Linked DNA regions of Homo sapiens: region 1 is linked to region 2. A link means that fine-mapping ties the variant in region 2 to the expression of a gene that starts in the linked region. Tissue or cell type: prefrontal cortex. Region 2 holds a variant in brackets; the other region holds the start of a gene. All regions are shown on one strand. Distances are between the middles of the regions.

Region 1 (8,176 bases), 65 kb before region 2:
ATCTCTTATCTATTTATCATCTATCTCCATATATGTATGTATCTATGTATCTCTATATCTATGTATCATCTATTTATCACCTATCTATCTCTCTATCCTATCTATCATCTATCTGTCCATTCATCCTATCTCATCTATCATCTACCTATGTATCATCTATCATGCATCTACTGATCTATTTATCTATCCATTATCTATCTATTTATTTATCATCTATCTAAACAGTGGCTTACAGCCTAAGAATGATTCTGCCCCTGCTCCTACCAGGGGACACTGTGCAATGTTTGAGGTCAGTTTTAATTGTCACTACTGGAAAGTGTGCCAATGGCACCCGGCAGATGGAGCCCAGGGATACTGCTCAACACCCTACAGTGCACAGGATGGGCCCACCTCAGAGAATCCAGCCCTGAATGCCACAAACGCCTTGGTGAAAAACTCCAGTAGTAACTTCCATCTAACCTTGGGAAAGGGATCAGGTTGACAGTCACATCATTCTGAACAGTCCAGGAGGCAGGAGCTGTCTGAGTCTTTTGTAAATGCCCCTCTTGTTAGAACACTCATAAGACCCTTTCCCGTAGGAGGATCCTCCCTTACCCAGAGCAAGAGCACAGCACTCCACGGTTTCCCTGCTGGAGCAATGAGAAGCCAACACAGGCCCCATGGAACGAGTTGGCAGCACAAGGCTGTGCAGACATCTGGCGACTATTGGAGCCAACAAGGAGAAAGCATAGAAGCTGGGAGAGTCTCCCCTTCCTTGCACAAGAACTGAGACTTCCTTGGAGGGGCCAGCTTCATCCTGGCATTTCTCTTCTTTGGGGCTGGCATCCAGAGGATAGAAAACTGAGGTCGTACTGGCAAAGGGGGCTCCGCCGGGGCACTTCTTGGCTCCTAAGGATTTCCCCAATGCCTCAGGGGCTGGACGGATTTGAAAGTGGACCCCCTATGGAAAATGATACAGAGATTTCTCAAAGAACTAAAATTTTATCTACCAGTTGATCTAACAATTCCACTACAAGGTATTCACCCAAAGGAAAACAAGTCATTATATCAAAAACACACCTGCACTCATATGTTTATTACAGCACCATTCACAATAGCAAAGATACGGAGTCAACCCAGGTGCTCATCGACAGGTGATTGGATACAGAAAATGTGATTTATGTGTACAATGGAATCATATTCAGCCATGCAAAAGAATGAAATTCTATCTTTTGCAGCAACATGGATGAAACTGGAGGCCATTATCTTAAGTCAAATAACTGAGAAAAAGAACGTCAATTACCACGTGTTCTCACTCATAAGTGGGAGCTAAATAATATGTCCACATGGACATAGAGAGTGGATTAATAGACACTGGAGATACAAAAGGGTGAGAGAGTGGGAGGATGGTGGAGAATGAGAAATTACTTAATAGGTACCATGTACACTATTCAGGTGATGCTTACCCTGGAAACCCAGACTTCACCACAACTCAGTATATCTATGTAACAAAATTGCACTTTACCCCATAAATTTACACAAATAAAATAAAATAAATCAGTAAAATTGGATATGTCAACCTGTTTAAAACAAACGAATGCAGAAAAAAAACATGTTGTAATAACATATAAAAATAAATAAAGATGGCTTCTTGATGTTTAATATGCCCTGCAGATATCTTACAAAGCCCCAGTAGTCACGAGTTAAATTCTTGCCTGTAGCCTGCTGGAGGTCAGAGATAGCCTCCACTGTTTATGTACAGCTCTGGCCCCATCTATGAAGTAGAGCTAAAAACACCACCGATACCTGTCCCCAAGGCTGAGCTGATGCAGGAACAGCCCTCAGCACAGTGCCTGGTATCCACAGACCATCGATCATCCTAGGTATTCATCTAGATCAGGAAGGCCTGACTGTAGCTTGCGTTGATTGCCATTGACAGTTTCGGCAAGAATCTGGGTTCCTTTGCTGTCTCTTTCGGATGGACACGTGAAGGCTCTTCTCCAAGTAAGTTCACTCATTCGACTCATGCACTCATACATGCATGCACTCACACCATCATCACTCATTCAACTCATACATGCATGCCCTCACACAGTCATCACTCATTCAACTCATACATGCATGCCCTCACACAGTCATCACTCATTCAACTCATACATGCATGCCCTCACACAGTCATCACTCATTCAACTCATACATGCATGCACTCACACAGTCATCACTCATTCAACTCATACATGCATGCACTCACAGTCATCACTCATTCAACTCATGAACTCATACATGCTTGCATTCACACATTCATTGATTCATTCACTTAATTCACTCATGCATGCATGCATGCATTCACACTTTCACTTATTCATTCATGCATCCATTAACTTGTCCATGCATTCAATTCATTCATTCACTCATACATAATACATTAATTCCTGAAGTGTATGCAGTCTTCACTCATTCACTCGTGTGTGTGCATTAACACACATGCTAGTTTGTTCAGCTCATTCCTGTACTCATACATATTTATTCACTCAGTCATTCGGCCACGTATTCACTTGTCATGTATTCTCTTCATTCACTCACACACACATCCATTCCTGTATAAATGCATGCCTTCACGTGCTCAATCAATCCTGCATGCATGAATTCACTCACTCATGCAGGCATGAACTCACTTGTTCACTCACTCATTCATGCACTCACTCATGCTTGTACGAATTCGCTTATTTACTCATTCATACACTCATGCAGGCATGAACTCACTTGTTCACTCATTCGTGCACTCATGCATGCATGAATTCACTTGTTTACTCACTCATACATGCACTTATACATGCATGAATTCACTTCTTAAGTCATTCATGCACTCAATCACGTATGAATTCGCTTGTTCACTCATTCATGCACTCACTCATGCAGGCATGAATTCGCTTGTTTATTCACTCATGCAGTCACTCATGCATGCATAAGTTCACTTGTTCACTTATTCATGCACTCACTCATGTATGCATGAATTCACCTTTCACCCATTCATGCACTATGCATGCATGAATTCACTTGTTCACTCAATCATTCATGCATTCAACTCATTCATTCACTCATTCATAGATTCATGCCTTCACGCATGCATGCATGCATTCACCTATATTTTCCACACAGTCACACCTCCATTCACGCATCTATCTCTAAATTCATTCATACATGCATTGGCTCGTTCATGCCTTCAACTCATGCATTCATGTGTGAATGCATTCATTCCCTCCTTGGCGCAAACATTGATTCAATGGTTCATTCATTTCCTGGCCTGCTCATTCATGAGTAGTTGTTTGTTCATTCACGCCTCACATGCATTCACGCATACATGCACTCACGCATACATGCACTCACCGCGTGCGTACAGCCACTCGCTCGCTATGCATTCAACAGCTGAAGCCTGAAACCCTCATTTATTCTTTCTTTCGTGCACTCATTCATTCATTCAGTTTATGCGTGTAAGTACGCGCACGTGCATTTTTCATGCATTCGACAAGATCGCGTATAAGCCCTGCCTTCTCCCTCTGGGAGGCTTCCAGAGCGGCCTCCACTCTTGCTGCGCGCTGGCCTTGGGCCCAGGGCCTTAAGTCATCGCAAACGTTTACTTTGGGGCTGGCTGATTAAAGGTTAAATGTCCAAACCTAGAAACCGCCGACTGCCGAAGGGGCCGCGGCGGGCGAGGGGCGGGGCGCGGGCGTGGATCGCAGCCCCCGGCGGTTCCCGGGTCTCTCTTCCCGGCAGCCGGGGCTGGGCACCAGGCGGCGCGCGGGCTTGCGGGCAGGGGCTGCAGGGAGGAGGAGAGGACCCGCGCCCGCGGGGGCTGGCGGAGGCGGGGCCGGGCTTCCGGACAGAGGCCAATCGCTGCCCTCGGGGCCTCCAGCGCCGGCTCTGGGCCGAGGCAGCCAGAGCGCGGAAGAGGTGCGGGGGGCTGTAGGGGGCTGCAGGGGACCGTGGGCAGTGGAGGAGGCCTGGGCGCGGCGGGGGGCCGGGGGGCGCAGAGGCTGCCCGAACGCCTAGGAGGTCTCGAGGGTGGGTGGCGTACAGCGGGGCGGGGGCGCAACCCAGAGGCCGAGGCTGGGGGCTGGGGGAGGGGCGCCGGACTGGAGTGCAAAGGAGGGGCGAGGGGCGCAGGGGGCTGGAGGTCAGAGGTTGCCCAAGCGCGAAGGAGGGGAGGGGTGCGGGGCGCGGGAGTAGGCCAGGAGCGCTTAGGGGTGAGTGCGCCGAGCCAGGGCACCGAGTGCTGGGGAATACAGGCCGTCCAGGCGCGGCGGGGCGCGGGGAGACGGAGGCTGCCGGAGTACGGAGGACAGACGGGGCGCGGGCGTAGGGCTGGGAGGCTTGGGGAGGGGGGCGCGGGCCCAAGGCAGAGGCTGCGGGAGCGCGGGGCAAGGGAGAGGTGCAGAGCGTGGAGGGGGCTCGGGGGCGCTTGGGGAGGATGGGCGGCAGGCCGGGTCGGGGAGGAGGGGCGGCGAGAGGCGCAGGGGTAGGCCGGGGGGCTGCACTGGAGTGACGAGGGAGGGGGCACCTGGCCGGGGGGCGCGGGCAGAGGCAGCCCAAGCTCGGAGGAGGTGCAGATACTGGCGTCCGGGAGCGCAGGGGTGGTCCAGGGAGTGGAGAGGGGTGACCGGGGGGCGCCAGCTGGGGTGGAGGAAGAGGATGCCCAGAACTCCAAGCAGGTGCGCGGGGCGGCGGGGCAGCTGCTGACACCGCTGAGGTCGGGTGGTGTCCCGGGGGCGTTGTCGTTGCTGGGCGCATGGGTGTTAAGACGCAGCGGGGTCGCAGGTGACTGTGGGGAGGACAGGGGGTCAAGGGGCCCCTGGCCAGAGGGCACGAGGCTGACCTGGAGCGCCAAGGAGGAAGTGCGGGGCGTGGAGGTCGCAGGGGCATCGGGGGAGGCAGGGGCCCCGTGGGGCGCAGGTGACATGGAGTGGGTAGGAGGCCGGGGGTGACACTGGCGGGGCCTGCAGCCGAGGGTGTCGAGACTGCCACGCTGTCGCCCCCAGGCCTGGAAATCCACGCGGATTCCCGGAGACGGCGCCTCTGCTCTGCGGGTTCGTGGCGAGGAAGTCCACCCACTGCTCCCGGGCGCAGGTCTGCAGGTCCGCGCCCACTGCCCGCGGCGCCACTGACCATGTCGGGTGAGTAGCTCAAGCTGCTTCAGTTCAGCCTGCCTGTTCCTACTGGCTTGGGTGACAGATTGGTCTGCACTGGGGAGAACCCCACTTTGACCGCAGGATTGCCCCAAACCCCGAGTCTCCCCCTTACTGCCTCGCCCAGGTCTCTCTGGGGCTGGAGGGAATGGAGATACCAGCCTCAGCTGCTGGGAGGGGGTGATTTACAGCAAGTGAAGGGGGCCTTGGGATTTCACCAGTTTCCTTTTGTAAAATATAGTCCTGAAACTTTCAATGGGCTTGTTTCTTGGGAATAGCATTGAACTGCCTGAGACTGTCACTGCCTGGAAGGCCGATGGGAAGAAGTCTGTTCTCCTGAAATGGCCCTAAAGCTCTGGGAAGAGGCTGCCTTGAGTTCTTAGAACTCAGACCACGGTTTTAATTTCTGTTTCCAGTACAGATACAGGGATGGCCCGGCTTGGTGGCTCAGGCCTGTAATCCCAGCACTTTGGGAAGCTGAGGCGGGAGGATTGCTTGAGGCCAGGAGTTTGAGACCATCCTGGGCAACATAGGGAGACCACATCTCTAGGAAAAAAATTTAAAAATCAGCTGGGCATTGCGGCACCTGCCTGTAGTCCCAGCTACTAGGGAAGCTGAGGTGGGAGGGTCCTGAGCCCAGGAGTTCCAGGCTGCAGTGAGCTATGAGTGCACCACTGCACTCCAGCTTGGGTGACAGAGTGAGACCCTGTCTCTAAAAAACAACAACAAAATAAGAATCCAGGTTAATCCTCCTGCAGGCAGAGGGCTGGCTGGCAAGAATGGCAGGAAAGGCCTGCCCCCGCCAAGGACCGGTGAGCCCCATCTCCCTGCCCTTGGGTTTTGTGGACATCAGATAGACTGGTTGACTTAAGAGGCCTAGATATGTGAACAGAGTGTAACCTCTTCCCATAAGAAAGATGCTGGTTCTATTTTCTATCATTAAATCATTAAGACACCTCCTTCTTGTACCAGACCACACTGGATCATTCTATGAGTGCATTTTATGTATTTATTTTTAAATGTATATTTTTTAAATTTTGTAGAGACAGGGTCTTGCTATGTTGCCCAGGCTGGTCTTGAACTTCTAGGCTCAAGCAGTCCTCCTCCTTTGGCCTCTCAAAGTGCTGGGATTACAGGCACGAGCCACCACGCCTGGCCATGAGTGCAATTTAAAACACACAAACAGAACAGATGACTTTTTTATTCAGAGGAGAGATTTGGTAAATCACAGAGCTGCTTCTCTCCTGTTTGTTCCCACTCTGGACTTAGAGATGAAAATTGTCGGGGCAGGGATCTTAAGGGCTGTTTTCATGAGGTGTACTGGAAGAGTCTGTTCCAAGGAATGGCAGAAAAGATTCTCTGTTCTAGGGACGCGTTTGGAGCTCTCTAAAGTGAAAGCCACACATTTCCCCAAGCCTGCTAGGGTCTGTATAATAGCAGCATTCAAGACGGACATTCGCATACATCTTGGTCAGCCTCGTGCCAGAAGAGAAGACTCAACTCTTTGCAGAAAACAAAAACCACCTTTGAGTAGAAAAGGGCTGAGAAGGAAGCTGCTAAGGTTATTTTGGGGGGTGATCAGAAGATTCCTTGAGTGCAGGGGGGCAGGCAAGGGGTAGAAAGAAACTGTTGTCACAGATTCATAAAATTCTCAGCCACTGTAATCTCCAGACTGGACTTGATTTTGTGACAATGTCTCCTTTTTGTGGGCTGTGGTGCAGTGACAGGTTTTCTTGCTGTTTTTCCACTCCATGCCGTTGCTGAAAGTGTCCGCCGCAGTGGCACTTGGAGTGGAAACTCCCTCTTTGAATGCAGTAGCATTGGATAATTGTGGATGTTCTCTGGCGTCTGGCGCCGCACCAGGACTTGATCACCAGTTGTTTCTTCAAGGCAAGGCGATGTGGAAGCTAAGCCCTGTCAATCAATGTTTCATCTTCTGTTCTATTTCAATCTGCTGGTCTGTCTTTGCACTTTAGATGGGTTTTACAGTGTCCTGGATGGGAAGCGGCTAACCTTCAGGAGGTGCACATTTTTGTTCCAAAGCAAAAGTCTGAGTCTCGGATCCCTTGTTGCTGGAGAGAGCTCGTGTGCCAACTGGTGTTGTCTTGTCATTGTGTGACTGTGGTCAATATTCCCTCCACTCTAAACCAAAGAGAGAAACAGGGTATCCAGTAGTTCCATAAAACTCTCACTCTAAATGCAGCCCTGTCTGCATTCTCTTTTGTGTTTGAGATCAAGGTGGGTGTGGGCAGGGCTGGTTCCTCCTGAGGCCTCTCTCCTGGGCTTGGTCCTCACAGGGTCTTCCCTTTGTGTGTGTCTGTGTCCTAATCGCCTCTTTTTTTTTGAGATGGAATTTTGCTCTTGTCGCCCAGGCTGGAGTGCGATGGTGCAATATCGGCTCACTGCAGCTTCCGCCTCTTGGGTTCAAGCGATTCTCCTGCCTCAGCCTCCTGAGTAGCTGGGATTACAGGTGCCCGCCCCCATGCCCGGCTCACTTTTGTATTTTTAGTACAGATGGGGTTTCTCCATGTTGGTCAGGCTGGTTTTGAACTCCTGACCTCAGGTGATCCACCTGCCTTGGCCTCCCAAAGTGTTGGGATTACAGGCGTGAGCCACCACGCTTGGCCTAATCTCCTTTCTTATAAGGACACCAATCCTATTGGATCAGAGCCCACCCTAGTGACTTAATTTTATCTTAATCTCTTCTTTAAAGACCCCATCTCCAAATACAGTCACATTCTGAGGTCCTGCAGGTTATGATATTCATATATGAATTTTGGAGGTGCACAAGTCAGCCCATAATAGGATAACTCATTTATTTGAATACTACTGTGTTTTTCTGCTGGGGCTGCCATAACAAAGTCCCACAGACTGGGCGGCTTAAACAACACACATTTACTCTCCCACAGTCTTGGAGGCTGGAAATCTGAGATCAGGGTGTGGGCAGGGCTGTTTCCTCCTGACGCCTCTCTCCTTGGCTTGTAGATGTTGTCTTTCTCTGTATCTCCACAAGG
Region 2 (8,308 bases):
TGAAAAATTAAAATGGCAATGTTACTGGAGACGGGTCCCTATCTAGATTCCAAGAGAGGGTTCTTGTGTTGTACCCGAGCGAGTTAGAAAAACGCCACACTTTGAGACGATTTAAGAGTCCTTTATTAGCCGGCGACCGAGAGACGGCTAACGCTCAAAATTCTCTCGGCCCCGAGGAAGGGGCTTGATTAACTTTTAGATCTTGGTTTAGGAAGGGGAGGGCGGGGGGTCTAGTGAAAACCATTTTACAGAAGTAAAGTAGGCAAAAAGTTAAAAGGATAAATGGTTGCAGGAAAGTAAACAGTTCCAGGTGCAGGGGCTTTAAGACTATTATAGACGCGAGGCTTTGGGCGTTACTAATCAGACGAATTCCCGGGAACTGCGGATGTAGCTCGCCACAGTATCTTATCAGTTAACTGCATTCTTGGATGTGCTGGGAGTCAGCCTGCACGAGTTCAGTCCTTGAGGAAGGGGCTGCCAGTGAAAGAGCCAAGGTGGAGTCTGGCTGGCTCTCTTAGCTAAGGGAGAGTCCATTCAGGTGGAAAGAAGGCTAGGTGAGTAGAGGAAAAGGGAGAGTCTAAAAACAGGTTAGTAAAAACCAGGTTGGGCATTACACTTGGATCTTGCGGCAAGAAAGAATTCGGGGCGAATCCATAGAGTAAAGTGAAAGCAAGTTTATCAAGAAAGTAGAGGAATAAAAGCATGGCCACTCCATAGACAGAGCAGCAGCATGGGCTGTTGGTTGCCTTTTTTAATGGTTATTTCTTGATTAGATGCTAAACAGGGGTTGGATTATTCTTGAGTTTTCTGGGAAAGGGGTGCGCAATTCCCAGAACTGAGGGTTCCTCCCCTTTTAGACCATATAGGGTAATCTCCTGACATTCCCATGACATTTGTAAACTGTCATGGCGCTGGTGGGAGTGTCTCTTAGTATTCTGTGCTTTATAATTAGCATATAATGAGCTGTGAGGACAGCCAGAGGTCACATTTGTCACCTCTTGGTTTTGGTGGGTTCTGGCCAGGTTCTTTCATGCAAGCTGTTTTATCAGTAAGGTCTTTATGTCCTGTATCTTGAGCTGACCTCCTATCTCATCCTGTGACTTAGAATGCCACACCTCCTGGGAATGCAGCTCAGCAGGTCTCAGCCTCATTTTACCCAGGCCCTATTCAAGATGGAGTGGCTCTCATTCGAAAGCCTCTGACAGCAAGATTGAAATAGCTTCAGGAGGGCTCATCCAGCTCATGGGCTATTCTGAACCTCTCTTTCCTTCCTTCATTACTGTCTTCTACCCCAGTTCGGGTCATGTGACTTGGTGACTTGGCCTCTGTCCAAGAACACTGAGATATCTTATTTGTCATTTTGTACACTGGTCAGTGATCTTGCATTCAAATGGATTTCTTCTCTCAGAGGGGAGTCCATTGGGGAAGTGAAGGGTCAAAGGCCAGCCAGAATTCATAGGATAGAGTCGGCAGAGAGCCTGGAAAGCGGGAATCTTGTTGATGGCTGGCAGAGGCCAGTATAGGCATTCTGCCTTTTAGGAGGTTGCGTAGAGTCTTGTAGAAGACAATGGCAGCTGTTTGGGCATTCTTTGGCAGTGTTGTGGATTTTGCTGTTGCTATGGTCTCAATGCTTGCCTTGAACATTGTGTGCCTTGAACATTCATGTGTTGAAACTTAATCCCCAAGACAATAGTATTAGGAGATGGTGCTTTTAGGAAACAATTAGGGGTCTAGACTCATCAATGGGATAAGTGTCCTTATAAAAGGGACCCCAGGCCAGGCACAGCAGGTGGCTCACACCTGTAATCCCAGCACTTTGGGAGGCCAAGGCAGCTGGATCACCTGAGGTCAGGAGTTCAAGACCAGCCTGGCCAACATATAGTGAAACCACATCTCTACAAAAAATACAAAAACAGGCATGGTAGCACACACCTGTAATCCCAGCTAATTGGGAGGCTGAGGCAGGAGAATCGCTTGAATCCAGGAGGCGGAGGTTGCAGTGAACTGAGATTGTGCCACTGCACTCCAGCTTAGGTGACAGACAGAGCAAGACTCCGCCTCAAAATATAAAATTAAATTAAATTAAAAATAAAATAATGAATAAAATAAAATTAAAAAGGTGAGCCATTGTGATGGATGGAAATCACGTAAACCTGGACCAATTCAGGCAAAGATGTTGATGGGACATCACGGGTAATAGCCATTCCTCAGAGACTACCTGCCAAATTGCTCCCCAGCTGTCTTAGTCAATTTAAGCTGCCATAAGAAAACACCATAGACTACACGGCTTACCCCAACCAGCATTTGTGGCTCACAGTTCTGGAGGCTGAAGTCCAAGGTCAAGGAATGGCAGATTCAGTGTCTTCTGAGGACCCACTTCTGTTGCCTGGTCCAGGCTAAACTGTAACCATAATAGGTTCGTTGCATGCAGCATGTCTGTACCCCAACTCTCAGGGCTGCAGAAGAGAAAGAGGTTTAATCAAAAAGAAAGAAAGAAAGAAAATGAAAATGAAAGAGACACACAGAAACATTCCACTGGTTACAGCTCAGCGTTTGCCTTATTTGAACATGGTTAGAACAGTTGGCTCCCTGTGAGTGGTTGAAGTATGGCTGCTGGGATTGGTGGAGATGTCGCTTGTTACAGAAGCATACTCTTAAGTTAGGTGATATGGTTTGGATGTGTGTTCTCACACAAATCTCCAGTGTTGAAGGTGGGGCCTGGTGGGAGATGACCGGATCATGGGGGCAGCGGTTTCTAATGGTTTAGAGTTCTCACGAGATCGGGTTGTTTAAAAGTGTGTGACACCTCCCCACTCTGTCTCGGTCCTGCTCCAGGCATGGTAAGACACGCTTACTTCCCCTTTGCCTTCTGCCATGACTGTAAGTTTCCTGAGGCCTCCCCAGCCATGATCTCTATACAGCCCGCGGAACCATGAGCCAATTGAACCTCCTTTCTTTCTAAATTATCCAGGCTCAGGTAGTTCTTTACAGCAGCGCAGGAACAGACTAATACCTTAGCTTTTCAGTCCGCCCGCCTACCTGCCAAGTTAGGTTACGGTTCACCCACAAGGACTCAAGTATGAGAGTACAGAGACATTCTCAGGCCAGATTTTAGTTTGATTTAATAGTTCAGATTCTTCTGCATCCCTGTATCTTCAGAAATAAGGATGTTCCCTACCATTTGATCCAGCAATCCCATTACTGGGTACCTACTCCGAGGAAAAGAAGTTATTATTTGAAAAAGATAAGATACTTGCACATGCATGTTTATAGCAGCACAATTCACAATTGCAAAAATGTGGATCCAGCCCAAATGCCCATCAATCAATGAGTGGATTAAAAAAACTGTGATACATATATATATACACACACACACATATATGTGTATATATATATATACACACATATATGTATATATATATACACACACACCCATATATATGTATATATATACACACACACACATATATTCATTCCTTTTTATGGCTGAGTAGTATTCTATCATCTATATATATATATATATATATATATACACACACACATATATGTGTATATGTGTGTGTGTGTGTGTGTGTGTGTGTATATATATATAGATGATAGAATACTACTCAGCCATAAAAAGGAATGAATGAATGGCATTCACAGCAACCTGGATGGAATTGGAGACCATTATTCTAAGTGAAGTAACTCAGGAATGGAAAACCAAACATTGTGTGTTCTCACTCATAAGTGAGAGCTAAGCTATGAGGATGCAAAGGTGTAAGAATGACACAATGGACTTTGGGGTCTTGTGGAGAAGAGCTGGAAGGGGGTGAGGGATAGAAGACCACACACATTGGGTTCAGTGTATACTGTTCAGGTGATGGGTGCACCAAAATCTCACAAATTGTCACTAAAGAACTGACTCATGTAACCAAATACCACCTGTTTCCCAAAAACCTATGGAAACAAAACAATT[T/A]AAAAATTTTTTAAAAAGAAATTAAGGATGTTTCTTTCCTCTGGGTATTAAGGCACCTTTCAAATGAGGGTGGTTTGACCTGCTTCAGGAGAGAAAGATGAGAGGAAGGTCAGAGAGACCATCCCGCTTCTGCTGTTTTCTCCAATGCCAAGGGGCCATGTTTTGGGGCGGCACGTCCTGAAACCCCTCACAAGCAACATAAATGAACCTGGATTGCTTAAACAACACCATCCAGGCATGGTGAGTGTGTGGGGTCATTCGAAGAGTAAGGAACGTAGAAGAGCTAGTGTTATAAAATGGCGAAATCAAGAACAGCCTGTGGACAGCATGCAGCGGTGGCTTTATGGGATTACTGTTGTGAGATGCTCAGGGTGAACGTGGGAGAATCCAAGCCTGAGACCCTGGCTCCTCCTTGGCTTGGATCGGGGAGAGCAGAACACCTTGATCTACTATCCCACCTTGTCCCCTGTAGGGAAGTAGAAGAGCCATAGCCACGTGAGGTGATGTCCGTAAAAGAGCGAGATTGCTGTGTGACATACAGAACAAAGCCCACCGCCACATTCTCCCTTCCTGATTCTTCAGCCTGATCAGAATGTGGCTTTGTTCATAGACTAATGGCTAAATTGGCAAAATGCCCCAAGATACGGAGTTGCAGTTGCGAAAGAGCCACGATTGCTGTGAAGATTGTAGAAGCTGTGATCTGCAAAGCACGGAGAGCAAGGCCTGGCTCATGTCAAGGACTCAATAAATGTCACAGCTGTACTCATTATTTTTACCCTGAGGCCACATCCTGGCACAGGGAGAAGGGTGATTATCCATTATACGAGGTCTGGCTGTGGATTGGGATGGCAGTGCATTAGCTGTTTCTTATGTGCATATAGAGAAGTCTGCTCAGGGGCTGTGTCTTTGCAAGCTCATGCCCTCTAAGCAGCTGCTTTAGAACAGGTGAAAATTGGCCAGGCACAGTGGCTCATGCCTGTAATCCCAGCAATTTGAGAGGCCGAGGTGGGCAGATTGCTTAAGTCCAGGAGCTCGAGACTAGCATGGGCAACACGACAAAACCTCCTCTGTATAAAATATACAAAAATTAGATGGGCGTGGTGGTGCACGCCTGTGGTCCCAGCTATTTGGGAGGCTGAGGTGGGAGTATCACTAGAGCTTGGGAGGCAGAGGTTGCAGTGAGCAAGATTGTGCCACTGTACTCCAGCCTGGGTGACAGAGCCAGACCCTGTGTCAAAAAAAAAAAAAAAAAAAAAAAAAAAAAAAAAAAAAAAAAAAAGCCAAGTGTGTGGCTCATGCCTGTAATCCCAGCACTTTGCAGGGCTGAGGTGGGCAAATCACCTGAGGTCAGGAGTTTGAGACCAGCCTGGCCAACATGGTGAAACCCCGTCTCTACCAAAAATACACACAGAATATTGGCCAGGCATGGTGGCGCATGCCTGTAATCCCAGCTGCTCGGGAGGCTGAGTGAGGCAGGAGAATTGCTTGAACCCGGGAGGTGGAGGTTGCAGTGAGCTGAGATCACCCCACTCCACTCCAGCCTGGGCAACAGAGCGAGACTCTGTCTCAAAATAAATAAATAAATAGAACAAGTGGAAATAAATGAGACGTCCCCCATCCCAAATGTTTTCGTCCCAAATGAAAATGAGCAGAGGCCACTTATTCAGAGCTAGCCCTAGTAAGGGAGTCAGACATCACCCTTTGCATTTTGGCAGGGACCGAAAGACAAGTAGAGGAGGCTTTATAGTGTCAGACCTCAGGATACACGTCCCCAAACATGACTGCTGGCAACCAGAATATACCAGCCCAACATACCCATTACTTTGAGCTGAAACACTGAGAACCAGCTAATACAAGAGGAGCTCTTTACTTGCTCCTCGACAGCTAAAAATAAAGTACAAATTTCCCCTTTGAAAAGAGAAATTTAGGCCAGACATGGTGGCTCACGCCTGTAATCCCAGCACTTTTGGGGACTGAGGCAGGTTGATCACCTGAGGTCAGGAGTTCGAGACCAGCCTGGCCAACATGGTGAAACCCCGTCTCTACTAAAAATACAAAAATTAGCTGGGTGTGGTGGCTCATGCCTGTAACCCCAGCTACTCAGGAGGCTGAGGCAGGAGAATTGCTTGAACCCACGAGGTGGAAGTTGCAGGGAGCCGAGATCATGCCACTGTACTCCAGCCTGGGCGACAAGAGTGAACAAAACTCCATCTCAAAAAAAAAAAAAAAAAGAAATTTTTGTTTTGTTTTGTTTTGTTTGTTTGAGATGGAGCCTTGCTCTGTCGCCAGGCTGGAGTGCCGTGGTCCGATCTTGGCTCCCTGCAACCTCCCCCTCCCGGGTTCAAGCGATTCTCCTGCCTCAGCCTCCCGAGTAGCACAAGCACGTGCCACCACGCTCAGCTAATTTTTGTATTTTTAGTAGAGACGGGGTTTCACCATGTTGGCCAGGCTGGTCTCTATCTCTTGACCTCGTGATCTGCCTGCCTCAGCCTGCCAAAGTGCTGGGATTACAGGCATGAGTCACCCCACACCCAGCCGAAATTTGGTAAACTCAATCAAGTTTATTTATTTATTTATTTATTTTTTTAATGGGTCGCGCTTTTGGTGTCTTATTTTCCTAACCCAAAACGAAAAAGACTTTCTCCTCTGTTTTCTTCTGCACATGTTATAGAGATCGCACTTACATTTGGGTCTCTGATCCACTTTGAGTTAATTTTGGTGCAGGGTTTTCCATTCACGGAACATGAAGTTGGATTTCTAATAGGTCAATATATGAAAAATTTCCCGCAAAGTTTTTCTTTTCTTTTCTTTTTTTTTTTTTTTTTTGAGACTGTCACCCAGGCTGGAGTACAGTGGTGCAATCACAGCTCACTGCAGCCTTGACGTCCCAGGCTCTAGAGATCCTCCCACCTCAGCCTTCCAAGTAGCTGAGACCACAGGTGTGCACCACCACGCTTGCCTGATTTTATATTTTTTGTACAGACGGGGTCCCACTGTGTTGGCCAGGCTCGTCTCGCACTCCTGGGCTTGAGTGATCCTTCCACCTCGGTGTCCCAAAGTGCTGGGATGATAAGCATGAGCCACTGCACTCGGCCAGTTTCTAGTTTGGATATTTGAGTGGACTTCCCAGCCCCCACACAGCATGCTCATTTCGTGTAAGATTGTGAGAGAGTGCGAGGAGAGAAAGAGCATGCAGCCAGCGTTGGAGCTTCGGAGACATCCCGGGCAGGAGCTTCCCAGGGTCTCATTTGTTCTGTCTCATGGTTGGCACACGAAGGACAGTGAGAGGAATCTTGGTTTCAGGGGGCCTCAAACCAGACATTTGAGGAGGTAGGGGAGGCGGTTGCCACTCCGCTCATTCAGTGCATCCAGGCTGTCTAACTGGTTAGGCCACTTGCAAATGTGCAAACCTTAAGTAAAGAAACAGACTCTGGGGTCAGGGGGGAGGTTTGAACTGTAACTAGCGCGTCATAAATCCCAGCCCTTATCTTGAACAAGAGTCAAAGACCGGACTTGAAGGCATCCCCCAAGATAAAGGTAGGCCCTCTGCAGGGCAGCTGTAAGTCAGCTCTCCTCCACCCCTCTGGCTGGCCCCCTCCTTATCCGAGTCCTGCTTCCTTCCTCTTTAAATCTGCAGACAATGCTGCTTCTCTGCAGGTCTCTGCATATTCCCTCAGCTCACAGACCGGCTGCATACTTGGTATTTTCAGGGTTAGGTTTGCAACACATGACTGGGGAAATGCATGAAAAGGAAATGATGCAAGAATTCACCGCGGACACCTTTAGGTGAGAAGGAGATGTGACAAAAAGTCTCTGCCTGGCCAAACCGTAGCCAGGCTCCTGAAGCCCCTCCCAGGCCCGGTGGTGCGTTTCCTTATAGAATTAGATTTCAGCAAAGTACCGGCTAAGTCAGTTTGGCGAGAAGCCACCATTCTTGATATCATGTTCCTCGTCGTCCACCACCCCTGGTTGATGTTTAACCCCCTTGGCTGGCTTTAACAAGCCAGGTTGGTTTAGCCAGGACCCGCTTCACCTCTGATGTTTCCTTTTAGTGCTTTGCCATCTGTACACCCGCTGCCTGCCCCCGTGGCTGTACATTCCCACTTGCCCTTGCTGTGTTCATATTGGAAGCTGAGCCCAGCCTCTCCTGCACTGTGAACCGCCATTGCAGTGGTCCCTGTACTTCACACGATAAGCCTGGATAATGTCTTCGTTATCTTTTTGGTGATGCTTTCCCAAGTACGAGGTTCGTGCAAAAGTAATAACTGCAATTACCAACCTAGTATCACTGAATAGTTTTTTCTTTAACAAAGGTTTTGCTCCCGGACGAATGAACGAGTGCTGGCTGCT

Which allele goes with the higher level. Alleles are on the strand shown, and positions count from the first base shown. SD is a standard deviation of normalised expression in the study named.
In carriers of allele A in region 2, the expression in prefrontal cortex of the gene that starts at base 3,885 in region 1 tends to be lower than with T alone (small effect, 0.30 SD a copy in GTEx).

The links. PIP is the estimated chance that this variant, and not a neighbour inherited with it, causes the effect.
Region 1: GYG2 starts here. The variant in region 2 is fine-mapped to the expression of GYG2 in prefrontal cortex (GTEx, PIP 0.94).

The regions. Positions count from the first base shown.
Region 1 is chrX:2,825,046-2,833,221 of GRCh38, forward strand. It overlaps GYG2 (glycogenin 2), which reads left to right and starts at 3,885. Exons shown (of 11, transcript NM_001079855.2): 1 at 3,885-3,930; 2 at 5,016-5,150. The coding sequence starts at 5,144.
Region 2 is chrX:2,890,442-2,898,749 of GRCh38, forward strand. No RefSeq gene overlaps it. Among named protein-coding and RNA genes, the nearest start is that of ARSD-AS1, 10 kb to the right of the region's middle. RefSeq lists enhancers at 1,374-2,064, 6,621-7,416, 7,417-8,212. The variant T/A (reference allele first, on the strand shown) is at 3,959.